Linked DNA regions of Homo sapiens: region 2 is linked to region 1. A link means that fine-mapping ties the variant in region 1 to the expression of a gene that starts in the linked region. Tissue or cell type: whole blood. Region 1 holds a variant in brackets; the other region holds the start of a gene. All regions are shown on one strand. Distances are between the middles of the regions.

Evidence for each region. PIP is the estimated chance that this variant, and not a neighbour inherited with it, causes the effect.
Region 2: it holds the start of NOD1, and the variant in region 1 is fine-mapped to the expression of NOD1 in whole blood (TOPMed, PIP 0.95).

Annotation. Positions count from the first base shown.
Region 1 is chr7:30,648,085-30,656,187 of GRCh38, reverse strand. CRHR2 (corticotropin releasing hormone receptor 2) reads left to right here. Exons shown (of 12, transcript NM_001883.5): 9 at 176-261; 10 at 473-608; 11 at 1,108-1,149; 12 at 2,588-4,246. The coding sequence ends at 2,728. LOC124901609 (a long non-coding RNA gene) reads right to left here. Exons shown (of 2, transcript XR_007060276.1): 2 at 1-1,870. Among named protein-coding and RNA genes, the nearest start is that of CRHR2, 30 kb to the left of the region's middle. RefSeq lists enhancers at 260-1,459, 2,308-3,297. The variant T/C (reference allele first, on the strand shown) is at 4,894.
Region 2 is chr7:30,475,692-30,483,794 of GRCh38, reverse strand. NOD1 (nucleotide binding oligomerization domain containing 1) reads left to right here and starts at 5,011. Exons shown (of 14, transcript NM_006092.4): 1 at 5,011-5,189. RefSeq lists a silencer at 4,883-5,122 and an enhancer at 4,771-5,515.

The DNA of each region.
Region 1 (8,103 bases):
GCGAGGGAGGAGCACAGGCCTTGGGATGCTGGCAGGTGCTAGGGGGACAGGTAGGATAGGTGTGTGCGTGGGACATCGGTTTCCAGGGGTCTGCGGGGAAGGGGGCTGCCTCTCGGCTCATCTCAAACACGTGCTCCTTCCTTTTCCCTCTTTCCCATGCCCGCCCTCCCTCCAGATCAATTTCGTATTTCTGTTCAACATCGTCAGGATCCTAATGACAAAGTTACGCGCGTCCACCACATCCGAGACAATCCAGTACAGGTATGTGAGGGGGTCCCTTGACCCCACAATGGGGACAGGAGGAGGTCATCGGGCCGTCCCCCTGCTTCCTGGCAGAGCCCTCTGCCCCAGGCCTCACCCAGGGAGCTCGCTCAAGCTCCCGGAAGAAACACCACCACTGTCTCCCGCCGCCCACTGGGTGAGGCCCTGCCTGCCGCATGGGCTCAGACCTGTGTCCACCTCTCGCCCCCAGGAAGGCAGTGAAGGCCACCCTGGTGCTCCTGCCCCTCCTGGGCATCACCTACATGCTCTTCTTCGTCAATCCCGGGGAGGACGACCTGTCACAGATCATGTTCATCTATTTCAACTCCTTCCTGCAGTCGTTCCAGGTGGGGCCTGTGACCAGATGGGGGCCCCACAGTGAGCTTTCCTGAGGCTGCTCTGGCAGCCATGCCCTCACTAAGGGGGTCCCGTGGGACTGGCACACCCATGGCTCAGTTACATCCACAGAGTTAGAAGCCCGTACATGCTCAGCCTGAGCCTGGCCAGTTATCCCCATCCCAGCCTGGGTCTTCATCCTACCAGCCCGCACCTACTGTCCCAGCACCTGTTCTGAGGATGCAGGCAGCCCAACCAAATGCCCTGGGACAGGTCACACAATATTGAGGAGACCGGAGTCTGCCTGGCTCCAGGCCTGTGACCACTGCTCACTCAGAGTGGACCGTGGAATATCTGCACCCTGAGGCTAGGACCCCACCCAGCTCTGACTCCAGGGGTTCCTGGGTCAAATTGTCCCCCCCCCACCATCTTGTCCCCAGTGCCACCCCACCAGGCAGAACAGCTCCGCAGGTAGGTCACTGACCACTCCCTCCTTTCCCTCCTTTCCAGGGTTTCTTCGTGTCTGTCTTCTACTGCTTCTTCAATGGAGAGGTATGAAGCTGGGCCCTCGGGGTGGCCTGGGATATCCAGGTCCTCAGACCCCACTCCAGGGCAGCTCCATTGGTGCTGCCCGGCCTTGCTGGAGTGCCAGGGAGAGGAAGCCTTGAGATACCACCCGGCCTTAGGGGAACAGGAATCCTTCTCACAGGGGCTGGAGCCAGTTTAGAAGGTCAACTATGCAGCCCCGAAATAACATGCCAGCACCCCACATGTGCACTCAGAGCTGGGTGAGCAAGGAAGCCCAGGCCGCAGGGCCTCATGGAAGAGAGAAGCCAGAGCAGAGGTGGTGACAGAAGGAAGCTTCCAGAAAGAGATGTGTGCCAAGCAATCAGGTCTGTATGGACTCAGGGAGCAGAAGAGAGACCAGCACATTCCCCCGCTACCTGCCACAGAAAAGCCCACACACCAAGAGCAGGCTCTGGGGAGTCAGGCGGCCGTGAAGCTTGGCATGTGCAAGCCAATCATGAGGCCCAAAGCCCCAGTGCAGCTGACGCAGGGAAGAAGCGCACTCGTACCTGGGCTGGGGTGGATGAGGACATGGAGCAAAGAGCAGACACAGCCCCTAGGGCCTGGGAGCTTCCGAACACTCCAGAGGAATACACTTGCCTGTCTCTGCACAGGGCACTGGCGAGGTGTCTATGCAGGCCTGTGTCTCTGTGGATGATAGCACATTCCACTTGCAAAGTCCATCAGCAGAGACGGGTCCTGTGGGCTGGATGAGAAGAAGAGAGGGGGCCAGTAAGGCAAACAAACAAGGGATGTTTATGGAGCATTTATTCTGTTCGAACCATGTGCAAGCTAGGATGTGAGAGACACCATCCAATTTCCAAAAAAATTCAATTACCAAACAAATGAAGCTTAAATGGCACCGGGTAGAGCCAACTTTAGAAATGACCAAGACAGAGAGCTTTCCCTTTCAGGCAGTAAATGCCATGGTTAGTCAGGCAGGGGAGTCTAGCAGGAGGTAGAGAAGGTGGAGGGGTGCAGAGGGGACGGTCTTCAGGAGGGAGGAGGAGGCGCACCAGGTGTGTGAGCTGGGCGCACACCACCAACGCCCTGCAAGGAGCAGGGGCCCAAGAAGGCTGAGGGGGCCAAGTCTCCAAGCTGCGCTCTCTGGTCCCAAGATGCTAATTTTGAGGTGGCAGAGTGAGTCAGGGAAGGGAAGGCAGTGTGTCCAGAGGAAACTGGATGATCTGGGAGGACAGTGTGGAGTAAAGGAGGTGTGGAGTCAAGCTTCTCCAGGAAAAGGATAAGGAAGAGGCCCCTGGAGAGAGGCAACAGCATCAGGGAAGGACCTGTTTTGGAAGCAGACAGTTCCTTGTCATGAGGGTGGCAGTCGACCCATGAGAGCAGAAAGCAGAGGAGGGGATGGTCCCAGAAGCCCAGGGTTGGTCCCTGGGAGCCAGCTGAGCCTCTGCCTTCCCCACAGGTGCGCTCAGCCGTGAGGAAGAGGTGGCACCGCTGGCAGGACCATCACTCCCTTCGAGTCCCCATGGCCCGGGCCATGTCCATCCCTACATCACCCACACGGATCAGCTTCCACAGCATCAAGCAGACGGCCGCTGTGTGACCCCTCGGTCGCCCACCTGCACAGCTCCCCTGTCCTCCTCCACCTTCTTCCTCTGGGTTCTCTGTGCTGGGCAGGCTCTCGTGGGGCAGGAGATGGGAGGGGAGAGACCAGCTCTCCAGCCTGGCAGGAAAGAGGGGGTGCGGCAGCCAAGGGGGACTGCAAGGGACAGGGATGAGTGGGGGCCACCAGGCTCAGCGCAAGAGGAAGCAGAGGGAATTCACAGGACCCCCTGAGAAGAGCCAGTCAGATGTCTGCAGGCATTTGCCCATCCCAGCCTCTCTGGCCAGGGCCTTACTGGGCCCAGAGCAGAGAAGGACCTGTCCAACACACACAGCTATTTATAGTAGCAGACACAGGGCTCCCCTGCCCTACTCATGGAGCCAGCAGCCAGGCAATGGTGTGGCCCTGCACTGGCCCTTGGCCTCCACACTCAGTGGTGCCCCTGCAGTTGGGTGGGGTACGCCAGCAAAGGATCAGTTTGGCTGCCTTATCCCAGGGGCTGTCACCTAGAGAGGCTCACTTGTACCCCACCCTTGTTCCTGTGTCCCCTCCCCAGCCATCCTCCCGCCTTGGGGGCTCCATGAAGGATGCAGGCTTCCAGGCCTGGCTTCCTCTCTTGGGAGACCCCTTCTCTGCCTAGTCCACAGATTAGGCAATCAAGGAAGACGCCATCAGGGAAGCCACATCCTTAGTCAACCAGTTGCATCGTGCGGGGCAAAATGAGGAGCAGAGGCATGGAGGAGGGAGGCGTGGGATGGGAATAGCAGAAACCAACCATGTCTTCAGTGATTGAAACTCATACCCCATTGCCCTTTGCCCTCCAGTCTCCCCTTCAGAAACATCTCTGCTCTCTGTGAAATAAACCATGCCTCTTGGAAGTGGCCTCCCCTCAGGTCAAGTCACCCAGGCACCCGAAGAGTGGTGTGGGCCAAGGATCGTGGCTGGGTCTGAGGGGGCCACATCCATCTTCCTTAGTGGGCTCGGGCCCTGGCCTCGGGCCAGTTCTCTCTCTCTCTGACCTCTGGTAGGTTTGGAGTCTTTATGGTCAAAGCACCTGCAGGCGGGTCTGTCCCTTATCACTCCAACCAGGCTAATACCTGGCCCCAGCCCCCAACCAAGGGCAGCTTGATTCAGCCTGGAGGAGGTGTGCAGCTCATCCAGCAAGCCAGGGCCTGTCCCAAAGGCCAAGGCTCTGGAATCTGGTGGGCAGGGTAGACATGGCCCCTCAGTTGACCACCAGGGCAGCTTCCAGGCTTGGCTTCCGTCCCTGTGTCCCTGCAGCGGAGCCGCAGGAGTCAGGGAGAGAGAAGCATCAGGCCATTTCTTCCAAAAGAAACCAATGCTCTAGGTACCCCCTACAAAAATAAGTTTTGAAAAATCATGTATCCCGTCTTGCACATTTTTAAGTTGACATGTAGTATTTTTTACTTAAGTTTTAAATCCTTCAAAGGTGTGATTTCTGCCATTTTGTAAATATTTACATTTTTAAATAAAACTGCTGCAACAATTTAAAATACATCAAATGAATTCTGATCACCATGGTGATTTAACACCCACCCTCATCTATTTTAAAAACACCTGACCCAGCTCTCCTTCTTCTTCTTTTTTTTTTTTTTTTTTTTGAGACAGGGTCTCACTCTGTCATCCAGGCTAGGGTGCAGTGGCAAGATCTCAGTTCACTGCAACCTCCACTTCCCAGGCTCAGGTGATCTTCCCAACCCAGCCTCCCGAATAGCTGGGACTACAGGCACGCACCACCATGCTGGGCTAATTTTTGTATTTTTTTGTAGAGACAGGGTCTGGTCATGTTGCTCAGGCTGGCCAGCTCCGCTTTAATTGTGGGAAATGTTACATTGTTTCTTTCCTCTTTAATGTGTAGCTTCATTCCATTGCCCTATAGAATTTTATACTAATGCATTACTTTTATGGCTGAAAGTGTTTTATTGCTCACTTTGTCATACTTCTCTGCCACACAATATATGTATGAATGAAAATTAAAATATTTCATTTTCTATGACCAAAGTTTCAAGGGATTTTAAAATAATCTTCTGGGTTGAATTATTACAATTATTTTTTGATACAAAATACAGTAAGCCACTGATTAAAACAACATAGATACCTAAAGTTTTTATAAGTAACTAGTTAAACCTAAAAAGGAAAATGTA[T/C]TGAAAACACAGCTTAATGAAATGGATAGGAAGTTAATGGCTCATGAATCTACAGGTGAATATTTATTGCTAGAATAAATCAGGACTCAGCATCAATTCTTTTCTTTTTTAATGTTTTATTGTTTATAGTGGGGTGTGCTGAGAAGCCTTTTCAATTCAGTAGATGATCTGGCACTCCAGATAGTCAATTCTCTATACTCTTGCTGAGATGTACAGTCAAAACTGCATAGTGATCTGTCACCAAAAATGACCTATCAGCTGGCTGTTTAATTAAGTGTCCTTTCAATTTGGCTGAAAAAGATGAACTGAACGTTATCTGACTTGCAGTAGGCTTTGGGCGCCCATGTCATCAGCTCATTCCATTTTTCACCACCAGCTGTGTGGGAATGCACTGCAGGTTAAGTGTGAGCCCTGCTTCTCTTGTCAAGAGGGCAGGGAGGTTGGGGCACCCTGATTTTATTTTCTCAAGTGACAGAACTCAGAACTCAGGGTATCTTAGAAAGTCTTACTGCATACCCAGTGGCAGCATGATGGCCGCATCCATTAGCATCATCAGGGCTCTTGTAGAACAAGGAGCCGCAAATGGTTTGGCCCCCAAGAGGCCACTTGGAGATTTCTGTGGCCAGATGAGGCTGTGAACAAGTGCTTATCGGAGCAGACGCTGCAGAGCCTGGCACCAAGTCCCAGGCATTCATCACTGCTTCTTAATGCAGCCCCCGGCTCATTACGCCAACTGTCCTTTGCTCCCTGGAGGGACCAAGGGCCTGTGATCCCTGCTGGGAGGCCAGGCCTGCCAAGGCCAACACCAGGAAGAGCATCAAAGTTGCTAACCTTTGTTCAGCAGGCACTTCGATATGCTCTCTCTCCAGTTCAGAGGAGGCTCCTCCTTGATCCAACCCCAGCCCTGAATCCCTCATTACTCCGTCTCCTGGTTGTGGCTCCCACTGAGCTCTATCCTTAAAATGCCACCAGAGCCATTAGGCCATCTCTCTGGGTCCCTACTTGTTAAGCTCGTTAGGCACCTGTTCCTTAAGCCAAGCCAGTCCTCATTAGCATCTGCTTCGGCGCTGGCAGCACCTCGTGGAGCTGGCCTTCCTGGAAAGTGGCCTCATTAGCAGACTCTCCTTCTCCGTAGCAGGCAAGTTCCAGCACCCAGATCCTGGAGGCCCTTAGGGTCCCTGTTTAACCCTTTCACCCACCCTGATTTACACAACTGGGGAAGACCTGAACCAGCCACAGGTCCTCACACCAGCCTCTTGGCCCCACTCCAAGAGAGAGTAACAGGCAGAGCCCTGACCCCAGCACAGCTCCAAGTCCCTGGGTCATCATCAAAGTGCGGCTAGAAAGTACCTGCTGGGGTACAAGCTGGTAAATGACACACGGCGGCAGGAGTGGCGAGTGGTGGAACATCTGTGGGGCAGGAGGTGAATGGCAGGGACGGCATTTCTCTCCCAGTCCCCTGCTGGGAGTGCCCATGGTGGAGGTGCTACCTGAGGGCCTGAAGCCTCAAGACCTGTGAGGGATGGCACTCGCAGAAAGTCCCTTCAGCATATAGACTTCCCTAGAGATGGAGGCCGACATTCCCGCGGCCACAGAGAGGGAGGCCCAGATGGAAATGACACAAGGGCAGGGACACAGAAAGACTTGTAGGAACACACGCACAGACCCAGAGAGGGAGGCGCACGCACCTTCCTCCATCATTTCCCATTCACAGAACACCAGGGTGTGCCAGATATGGAAGTAACAGAAAGACAAGTTTCCTGTTTCAAGAAACTCATAATCTGGTTGAGAACAGCACAAGGAAAAGGCAGGCAAAAGACACATCGGCTCCTGCAGCCTGCGCCTGCCCCCAGCCCCCTGCCCTGTCCATCTCCTAGTCCATGCCCACAGTGGCCCCAAGCCAGCTGGCTTCTAGGCACAAGGACCTCAGCTGCCCTCCCCACTTCTTTCCCCTTCACCCCCATGCAGGCCCGGATCTCCAGATGCCCCAAAAACAGAATAGGGAAAGAGGCCCAACTGTGCCGCTTGTGCTTTCCCCAGCATCTTCAGAAGCCCTGGGCAGGTGGGGGACGTGTGCTGATGCAGCTGGACGGGAAGGGAGCTGTCCTATGAGGGACAGGTGAAGGGACTAGAAAATGGCACGCTCAGGAGAACAAAGTATCCCCTGCACACGTCATGGGTCATGGAGGCAGGCCTAGGGCTGGGAGGCCCAATGGGAGTTCTTCCCTAGAGTGACATTTCAGCCAGGGTCGGGGAGGGTTTGGTGGTAAACAGCTGTGCCTCAGGTGGAACAAGTGGCTGGGGTGGCCGAGAGCATAGGAGGGGCTTGAAGCAGGGGGACCCCTTCAGCCAGGGAGCCCGGCCCCCTGTTCTGAGAGCACACCTGGAAGCAACCGGGTGGCATGTTGCACAGCAGGCTTCAGAAGTCATACTTGGTGGGGTCTAGGAATCCACACGCTTCACAGGCCCCCGGGTGATTCTGACAGCTGGGGTGTGGGCCAGCAAAAAAAGACACATCCCTTGTCTCTTCTTTCCAACACACACACGTGCTGTAGAAAGCAACAGCGACGCCAGGAGTGGTGGCTCATGCCTGTAATCCCAGCACTTTGGGAGGCCATGGTGGGCAGATCACCTGAGGTCAGGAGTTCGAGACCAGCCTGGTCAACATGGTGAAACCACCCCATATCTACTAAAAATACAAAAATTAGCCAGGTATGGTGGCACGTGTCTATAATCTCAGGTATTTGGGAGGCTAAGGCAAGAGAATCGCTTGAACCCGGGAAGCAGAGGTTGCAGTGAGCTGAGATCACACCACTGCACTCCAGCCTAGGTGACAGGGTGAGGTTCAGTCTCAAAAAAAAAAAAAGAAAGAAAACATGTGAATCTACTCATCAATATGCCCAGGATGGCTTCCAGGCTCTGCCTCGAAGGTGCCGTTAATTTTCCTGAGGGGGCTGTGCCACTTAGACATGTTAATTAGCAGGAGGAATGGGCAGAGGGCATCACTGCCCTGTGTTGACTGAGTTTCTGCCAGATTTTCCTCTTAGGTATTTGTTTGTTTAGGCCTCGGGGCCCTCCCATACAGCGCTGCAGCAGGCCTCCCTCGTCACAGAACCATCACCCGGCAAAACCTATGCATTAGTCAGAAATGTCCCCTCTAGGGGCTCCTTCAGCAGTCTCCACAGACTCCACTGCTGGGCTGGTCATTCC
Region 2 (8,103 bases), 170 kb after region 1:
TGATGACAGAATAGAATGGGCCTGTGAGGCTGGAAAGAGATATTTTCCTTGGTCCTAGAACCATTTGCCTTATGTGGGAAGAGATTGATAAGTGGAAGTTTCAGTGGGACAGTAGGTGGGAGTGACCGAAGAGAAGGATAAAAACTGGCCATGAGGGACAGAAGTTGGAACTCTAGCTGCTTCTTTAGCTACCTTATCAGCATAAGCATTGCCCTGAGTGATGGGATCTGATGCCTTTTGATGGCCCTTGCAGTGAATGACTCCAGCTTCCTTTGGAAGTAAAGTGGTCTTGAGAAGAGTTTTTATTAAAGAGGCATTAATGATGGAGGACCTTTGCGTAGTGAGGGAACCTTTTTCTGCCTATATAACAGCATGGTGGTGCAGGATATGGGAGGCATATTTAGAGACAGTATAAATATTGACGTGTAGTCCTTTTGCAAGAGTGAGGGCTCAAGTTAAGGCAATGAGTTTGGCTTGCTGAGAGGTAGGGGAGCGGGGCAGAGTGGTAGCCTCAAGGATAGATGTGGAAGATACTACTATAGCATAGCCTGCCTTTGCTGGTGAATGGCAATTAGGCCTGGTGGAACTGCCAACAATAAACCAAGTGCGATCAAGGTGAGGAACAGGAAAGAAAGAAATATGGGGAAATGGAGTGAATGCCAGGTGGATTTAGAGAGATACAGTCATGGGGGTCAGGTGTGGTATCAGGAATAATGGGGGCTAGCTAAAACAGTAGGGTTAAGTTATTTGGACAGAAAGGCTACAGGGCACAATCCCAGCTCTTGTGTAAGAATTCTGACTGCACAGCCCTGCACTTCGGCTGTGTGTAATGAAAAAAGGGTTGGGATGAGTTACGGAGAGCTAGTGTGGGAGCAGCTTTTAGGGCTGTTTTTTAAGGAACGGAAAGAGGAGTGGGGAAAGGATTTAGGATTAATGGGGTCAGCTAGGTTTGCTTTTGTGAGTTTATATAATGGTTTAGTCAGGATGGTAAAACTAGGTATCCAAAGGCGGAAGTACCTACCCATGCCTAGGAAGGAAAGGAGTTGTTGTTTTGTAGAAGTGGCTGGGGTTTGGGAGATTAGCCAGTCAGGATCAGCAGAGAGAGCATGTGTTTTTTCATGAAGAATTATGCCAAGACAGGTAATGGATGAGGAAGAAATTTGGGCTTGACTGAAGCAATGGGGGCTGTCCATGAAGCCTTGTGGCAGTACAGCCCAAGTAAGTTGCTGAGGCTGATGGATGTCAGGATCAGTCTAAGTGAGAGCAAAGAGAGGCTGGGATGAAGGGTGCAAAGGAATAGTAAAGAAAGCATGTTTGAGATCCAGAACAGAATAATGGGCTATGGAGGGGTTGTGGAGGGAGGTATTGAGGATAGGAGAGTATATGGGTTTGGCACCACAGGGTGGATAGGCAAGACAATTTGGTTGATAAGGCGCAGATCCTGAACTAACCTGTAAGGCTTGTCCGGTTTTTGGACAGGTAAAATGGGGGAATTGTAAGGAGAGTTTATAGGATTTAAAAGGCCATGCTGTTAACAGGTGAGTGATAACAGGCTTTAATCCTTTTAAAGCGTGCTGTGGGATGGGATATTGGCGTTGAGCGGGGTAAGGGTGATTAGGTTTTAATGGGATGGTACGGGTTGCGTGATCGGTTGCCAAGGAGGGAGTAGAGGTGTCCTACACTTGTGGATTAAGGTGGGGGGATACAAAAGGAGGATGCAAAGGAGGCTTTGAACTGGGAAAAAGGGCAGCATTGAGGTGTGGCTGTAGCCTAGGAATAGTCAGGGAAGCAGATAATTTAGTTAAAATTTCTCGACCTAATAAGGGAACTGGGCAGGTGGGGATAACTAAAAAGGAGTGCATAAAAGAATGTTGTCCAAGTTGGCACCAGAATTGGGAAGTTTTAAGAGGTTTAGAAGCCTGGCCATCAATACCCACAACATTTATGGAGGCAAAGGAAACAGGCCTTTGTAAAGAAGGTAATGTGGAGTGGGTAGCCTCCGTATTAATTAAGAAGGGGATGGACTTACCCTCCACTGTAAGAGTTACCCAAAGCATCTGTGATGGTCCAGGAGGCTTCTGAGGCGATCGGGCAGCGTCAGTCCGAGAAGATCTGTAAAGGAGTCAGTCAGAGAGCCTTGGGCCAGACAGAGTTCCAGGGGCTCTAGCAGTGGCTGCTGGGCGAGTTGGACAGTCTGATTTCCAGTGGGGTCCTGCACAGATGGGACATGGCTTGGGAGGAATCCCGGGCTGCACACATTCCTTGGCCCAGTGGCCAGATTTCTGGCACTTGAAGCAAGATCCTGATGGAGGAGGTCCTGTAGGAATGCTTGACCACTGCGGCTTAGGCATTCTGATGTTCTTGTGTGCTGGAGGTGCGGCTGGGTTTTGTCTTACAGCAGAGGCAAGTAATTGTAACTCAGAAATGCATTGCTGTCTGGCTGCCTCCTTTCTATTATTGTACACCTTGAAGGTGAGGTTGATTAATTCCTTTTGTGGGGTTTGAGGGCCGAATTCTAATTTTTGGAGCTTTATGTAACGTCGGGAGTGGATTGGGTACTAAAATGCATACTAAGACAGCCTTCTGACCTTTCAGAGTCTAGGGCTGTAAAGTGTCTAAGGGTTGTTGCCAAAAGAGCCATGGACTGGGCTATGTTTTCATATTTGATGAAAAAAAGCCTAAATGCTAATTGATTTGGGAGAGGTTGGATAAAGAAAAAGGAGCATTAACCTTGAGGAAATTGTTGGGTAGGTAGGGGAGGGCTAGTTGCGGAACGAAACTGTAAGCTGGACCGGGTGTGAGGAGGTGAGGTGATAGAAGGATTATAGGGTGGGGGAGTGGAGGCAGAGGAAGAATTGGGACCTGGCTCAGCCTGGCGAGGAGCAGCCTGGGGAGGAGGGGAGAGGTTAGATGGGTCCATAGAAAAGGAGGATTCACAGGACTCAGAGCTTGGGGTGGAGACTGAAGGAACAGACAGGAGAGAAAGAAGATTTGGGATGAGTCACATTGGGAGCAGAGATTAGGAAGGGACCAATGTGTAAAAGAATGCCTGGACATCAGGCACCTCAGACTATTTGCCCATTTTACGACAATAATTATCTAGCTCATGTAGGATGGAGAAATTGAAAGTGCCGTTTTCTGGCTATTTGGAACCATTGTTGAGTCTGTATTGGGGTCAAACGGTATTGCAGAAGAAAATAAGGCGTTTAGGTTTTAGGTCAGGTGTGAGTTGAAGAGGTTTTAAGTTCTTGAGAACACAGGCTAAGGGAGAAGAAGGGGGAATGGAGGGTGGAAGGTTGCCCATAGTGAAGGAGGCAAGCCCAGAGAAAAGAAGGTAGAGACCCGGAGAAGGGGGGTGGTGAGCAGCCCTGGGCTGCAATGTGGCTGAGCAGCCAAAGCAGGCGACCCACAATTGACTTGCCACCAAGGGAATGTGGGTGAATGACCAAGGCAGGCATCCCCACGGTGATCAGACACCAATGAAATGTACGTGAATAATCAGGCAGGTGTCCCTGCAGTGATTAAACACCAAGGGACGACTGTTTTCCTGAGTCCGTGACCGGAGCTGGAGTTTTGGGTCCATGGATAAAATATGTCTCCTTTGTCTCTACTAGAGAGGAGAAAGAACTGGAATTGGAAATAGAGGGAGATTTAAGGGTAGTGAGAGAGGCTGGAGAAGACAGTGAAAAGACCGCTTACCCGATTTGAAATTGGTGAGATGTTCCTTGGGCTGTTTGGTCTGAGGACCCGAGGTCATAGGTGGATCTCCTCACAGAGTGAGGGTGAGGACAGGGGACTGGTCTCCTGAAGGAGTCCTCCTGTCCCGGGTCTTCGGCACCAAATGTCACACGTGTCCGTGTGAAGAGACCACCAAAAGGCTTTGCGTGAGCAATAAAGCTGTTTATTTCACCTGGGTGCAGGTGGGCCGAGTACGAAAAAAAGAGTCAGCAAAGGGAGTTAGGGGTGTGGTAGCTTTATAGGATTTGTGTGGGTAGTGGAAAATTACAGTCAAAGGGGGTTGTTCTCTGGTGGGCAAGGCGGGGGCCGGGGGGGTGGAAGGTCTACAAAGTGCTCAGTGGGGGAGCTTCTGAGCCAGGAGAAGGAATTTCACAAGGTAATGTCATCAGTTAAGGCAGGAACCAGCCATTTTCACTACCTTTGTGATTCCTCAGTTGCTTCAGGCCATCTGGATGTATACATGCAGGCTTGGGCTCAGAGGCCTGACACAAGTTGGCACATTTGATCCTATCAACTTTAGTTTGCACTTTCACTTTTGATTTAAGAACATACTTTCTGTTTCTCAGAGGGCAGCCTCTGATGGGAATTTTAATACTCACAAGCATCAGTGGCTATATGATTGAATGTACTTCTTCAGTGTGAGTAAGTGACAACTTTCTGTAGCATGATATCCCTTATGGACACGATCCCCATTCAAAACGTTTTAAAACTATTTTATTGGGGACATTTATTAGCATGTTAAAACTCTTTTACAACCTATTAGAGCATATGCATAGAACATAAAATGTACACTGCCAAGAACAAATTTAAGGATAGGAAGAAAAGCTTACATTTTTTAAAAAGTATAAATTGAAATGTATGCAGTGTAATTTAAATTTGATTACGTTAACCTCCATTTCATCAGGACCACGTGTCGCGTTTTAACAAGAGTTTCCCTATCATGTCCAGGCTTTGGCTCTGGTTGCAGGCGCTGGGTAGGCACTTTTACGAGGAGGGACCTGGCACGATGGCACCACAAATTCCCAAGTGTGTCACCTCTGGGCGAACTTGGGCCTGTCCACTCGGCCCTGCGCGGTGGCCAGGGGCTCACCCTCTCGCACCGGGCGTCCCTCTGCGCGCAGCTTCTCTCGCCCCCCCGCGCCAGACCCGGGCGAATGGCAGCACCGTGGGACCCTGCCTTGACCGCCCCCGCCCTTCGGCGGCCTCTCCCAGCAGCCGGCAGGCTCTTGGGCGCGCCAACAGAGGGGCGCGGCTGCGGCTGTAGTCGCAGCCAGTTCCCGTTCCGGGCCCGCGAGGCAGCCGCCCCGGTCCTGCCCCTCCCTCGCGCTACTGCGGGAGCAGCGTCCTCCCGGGCCACGGCGCTTCCCGGCCCCGGCGTCCCCGGACCATGGCGCTCTCCGGGCTCTTCTCTAGCTCTCAGCGGCTGCGAAGTCTGTAAACCTGGTGGCCAAGTAAGTCCCAGCGACTGGGGATTCGCGCGGGGCAGGCCCTTTCTGAGGTCCTGGGCGCTGCGAGTGAGGAGGCGCAGGGAGGCGGGATTTGCGTGCGGGCGGAACGCAGCGCGGCTCTGGAGGAGCTCTGGGTGGAACCAAGCGGAGAAACCCGCGAGTTTGAAGCATGTAGCGAAAGTTGAGAGGGATGAACTTCACAGTCAGCGGAATCGTTTATCCCACTGTGGTCGAACGCAGGGGTTCTCAATCGTGCCAGCAGCTTAGAACCACCTGGGGAGCTTTTAAAATCCAGATATCCAGGCTGCACCCTAGATCAATTCCATCAGAATCTCACGGAGTCAGACCCAGGCCTCCGTATCTTTTAAAAGCTCCCCAAGTGATTCCAGTGTGCAGCCAGCGTTCGAGGGTTTGTGGCAAAGGCTGGAAGGGCAGACAGGGGCCTTCATGGAGTCCCGCCTGCAGACGGGACAGCAGCTCCCAGTGTCCTGCTTGGTCCTGGAGAGAGGGTGAGAACTTCCCTTGGGTTTCATGCTCCACAAAGTAAGGAAATGAGACAATGCTTGGCAAGGTCGCCTGAATATCACATTCAAAAACGCCTCCAATGTGTGCAGTTGTTTTGGCACATTGTGAAAAACATAGGAAATGACAGAGGTTGATGTCTCATTAGCTCTGCATTCTAGGAAACATTTCGGTTGTTGGTGTTTGAAATTAAGTCTGGGGAAGCTAAGCTAGTAAACCCATGGCCTTGATGACTTCTGGCCTTTCTGCTTTAAGGGTGAAGCCAGGGCCGGGCGCGGTGGCTCACGCCTGTAATCCCAGCACTTTGGGAGGCCAAGGCAGGCGGATCACCTGAGGTCGAGAGTTCGAGACCAGCCTGGCCCAACATGGTGAAACCGTCTCTACTAAAAAAAAAAAAAAAAAAAATTAACCGGGCGTGGTGGCGCATGCCTGTAATCCCAGCTACTCGGGAGGCTGAAGCAGGAGAATTGCTTGAACCCGGGAGGCAGAGGTTGCAGTGAGCCGAGATCGCCCTGTTGCGCTCCAGCCTGGGCAACAAGAGCAAAACTCCGTCAAAAACAAACAAACAAACAAAAAACAAAAAAACGGTGAAGCCAGAAGTCGTGCTTGCCAAAGGGTCGAGTTTGTTCTCCCTCAAAGCCCCTGTTGAAGATTGAACTATCACTTTCAGGGAAGAGTAAAAGAGTAACTCCACGATGCATCTTAGAGAGGAGTGGATTCCCTGTTCTCACCCAGGCTTAGATGCCAGGGGCCAGGTAGCTGAAATCCAGGCAAACCAGGCATTGACAAAGTACAGACTTCTACCGAATATGCCAGACAGATAAGCAAGCTGTGTTTAAAACAAACAGCAGAGTGGTAGAAGAGGGCTCTTTCAAATATTGTAAGAAGAGTAGGTTTTATTTTTGTGGAGTGGAGAAATAAGTTCACGCTTTGGAACCCATCAAATCTGGGTCAAAACTCGGATTCTGTCACTTCTATGCTGTGACTTTGGGCAAGTTCCTTGACCTCTCCAAGCCCCTGTTTTCCCACCTGTAAAATAAAGAGCAACCCTCTCCTGAGGCTAGCATAGTTCAGCGAGATGATGTGCATCACACACCTGGAAGGTGGTGGCGCTGGCAGGTGCTCTGGCAGAGGTAGTTATTAGACACTGGAGTGGCAGTTTGTGCCCGTTAATTGTTTACTTAGTACAGCCACTATGAGGGAGAATGTCTATAAAATGTTCCCTTCAACGCTCCATTCCTTCTCCTGCCCTGCTGCCCCGCTCAGGGCCTTAGCGGGCTTTAAGTCTGAAATCTTAGGCTGCAAATCCCCTCAGTCCCCCAGGGCGTATTAATGGCTCTGGAATACAGTTTTACTGCATGTGATAGGAATGAATATTTTGACACACACACACTCAAAAGCTGTTCTTAATCTTGAGACTTCCTCCTCTCTGTTGCCACATATATATCTTTTAAATGGCTTTCCAAGAAAGCTGGGCTGTGCACAGTGTCTCAGAATTAGTGTATGTGCACACACACGCACGTTGCTCCCTGCTGACAACATCCTCAGACCATACCCTTGGTGTTCCTGTTTTGCTCCTGACTCTTGGCCTAGGGACAGTGAATCTTTCTTGAATGACCAAGGACAGTCAGGGATCTGAGGAAGGGAGAACCCAAATTCTACAATTGCTGATGCCTGCGTCCCAGCTGGAACTTTACCCTGGTACGTGCTCTGTGCATCATGGATGGTCACTTTGATCCTAACAGCAGTGCTGTTTAGATTAGACATCAGAAATAGAAACAGTAAGTAATATAGGCATAAAGATCAAGTGTTTTTCTAGTGTATGTGTGATCACTGATATTTGCTTACACAAGACTATCAAAGTCTTATCTCTTATTCAAAGAAAAGGATTCAATATTTGTTCAAAATCTAAGATATGAACGTAGGATTTAAGGTTTAAGTTACTAGTTTCTTCTATCATTCTTATTATTGGGGGGATTTTTTTTAGGCAAGAAGAAATTAGAAAAGCTAAAATGTGTACTTATGCTGAATTTTTGTCATGCAGAGGCTCTAGGTATTTTGCAAGTTTTCAGAAGTCCCATTTTCTTTTATCTTCTAGGGACAGTCAGTTGCATGTCACACAAGGGGCCTCCTTTGATTTATCCAAAAGGTCTGACCTGGTTTCTGGAAAAACTCTTTAGCGCATCAAATACTCGTTGAGGGCAAGTGTTGTTTCTAAACTTGACTCTTGTGGTGAGAGGTGAGTAGTCACTGGCATGTCAGTTAGCTGACATTTTTTACCCACGCTAGAAAGTTCATTCAGGCAAGACTTCCTGGCTTGAACTCTTATTTAAACATGTGTTTTATCTGGAACTGCCACAGTCCAAACTGTGGGCAGAGATTCCTGTGCAGAGTT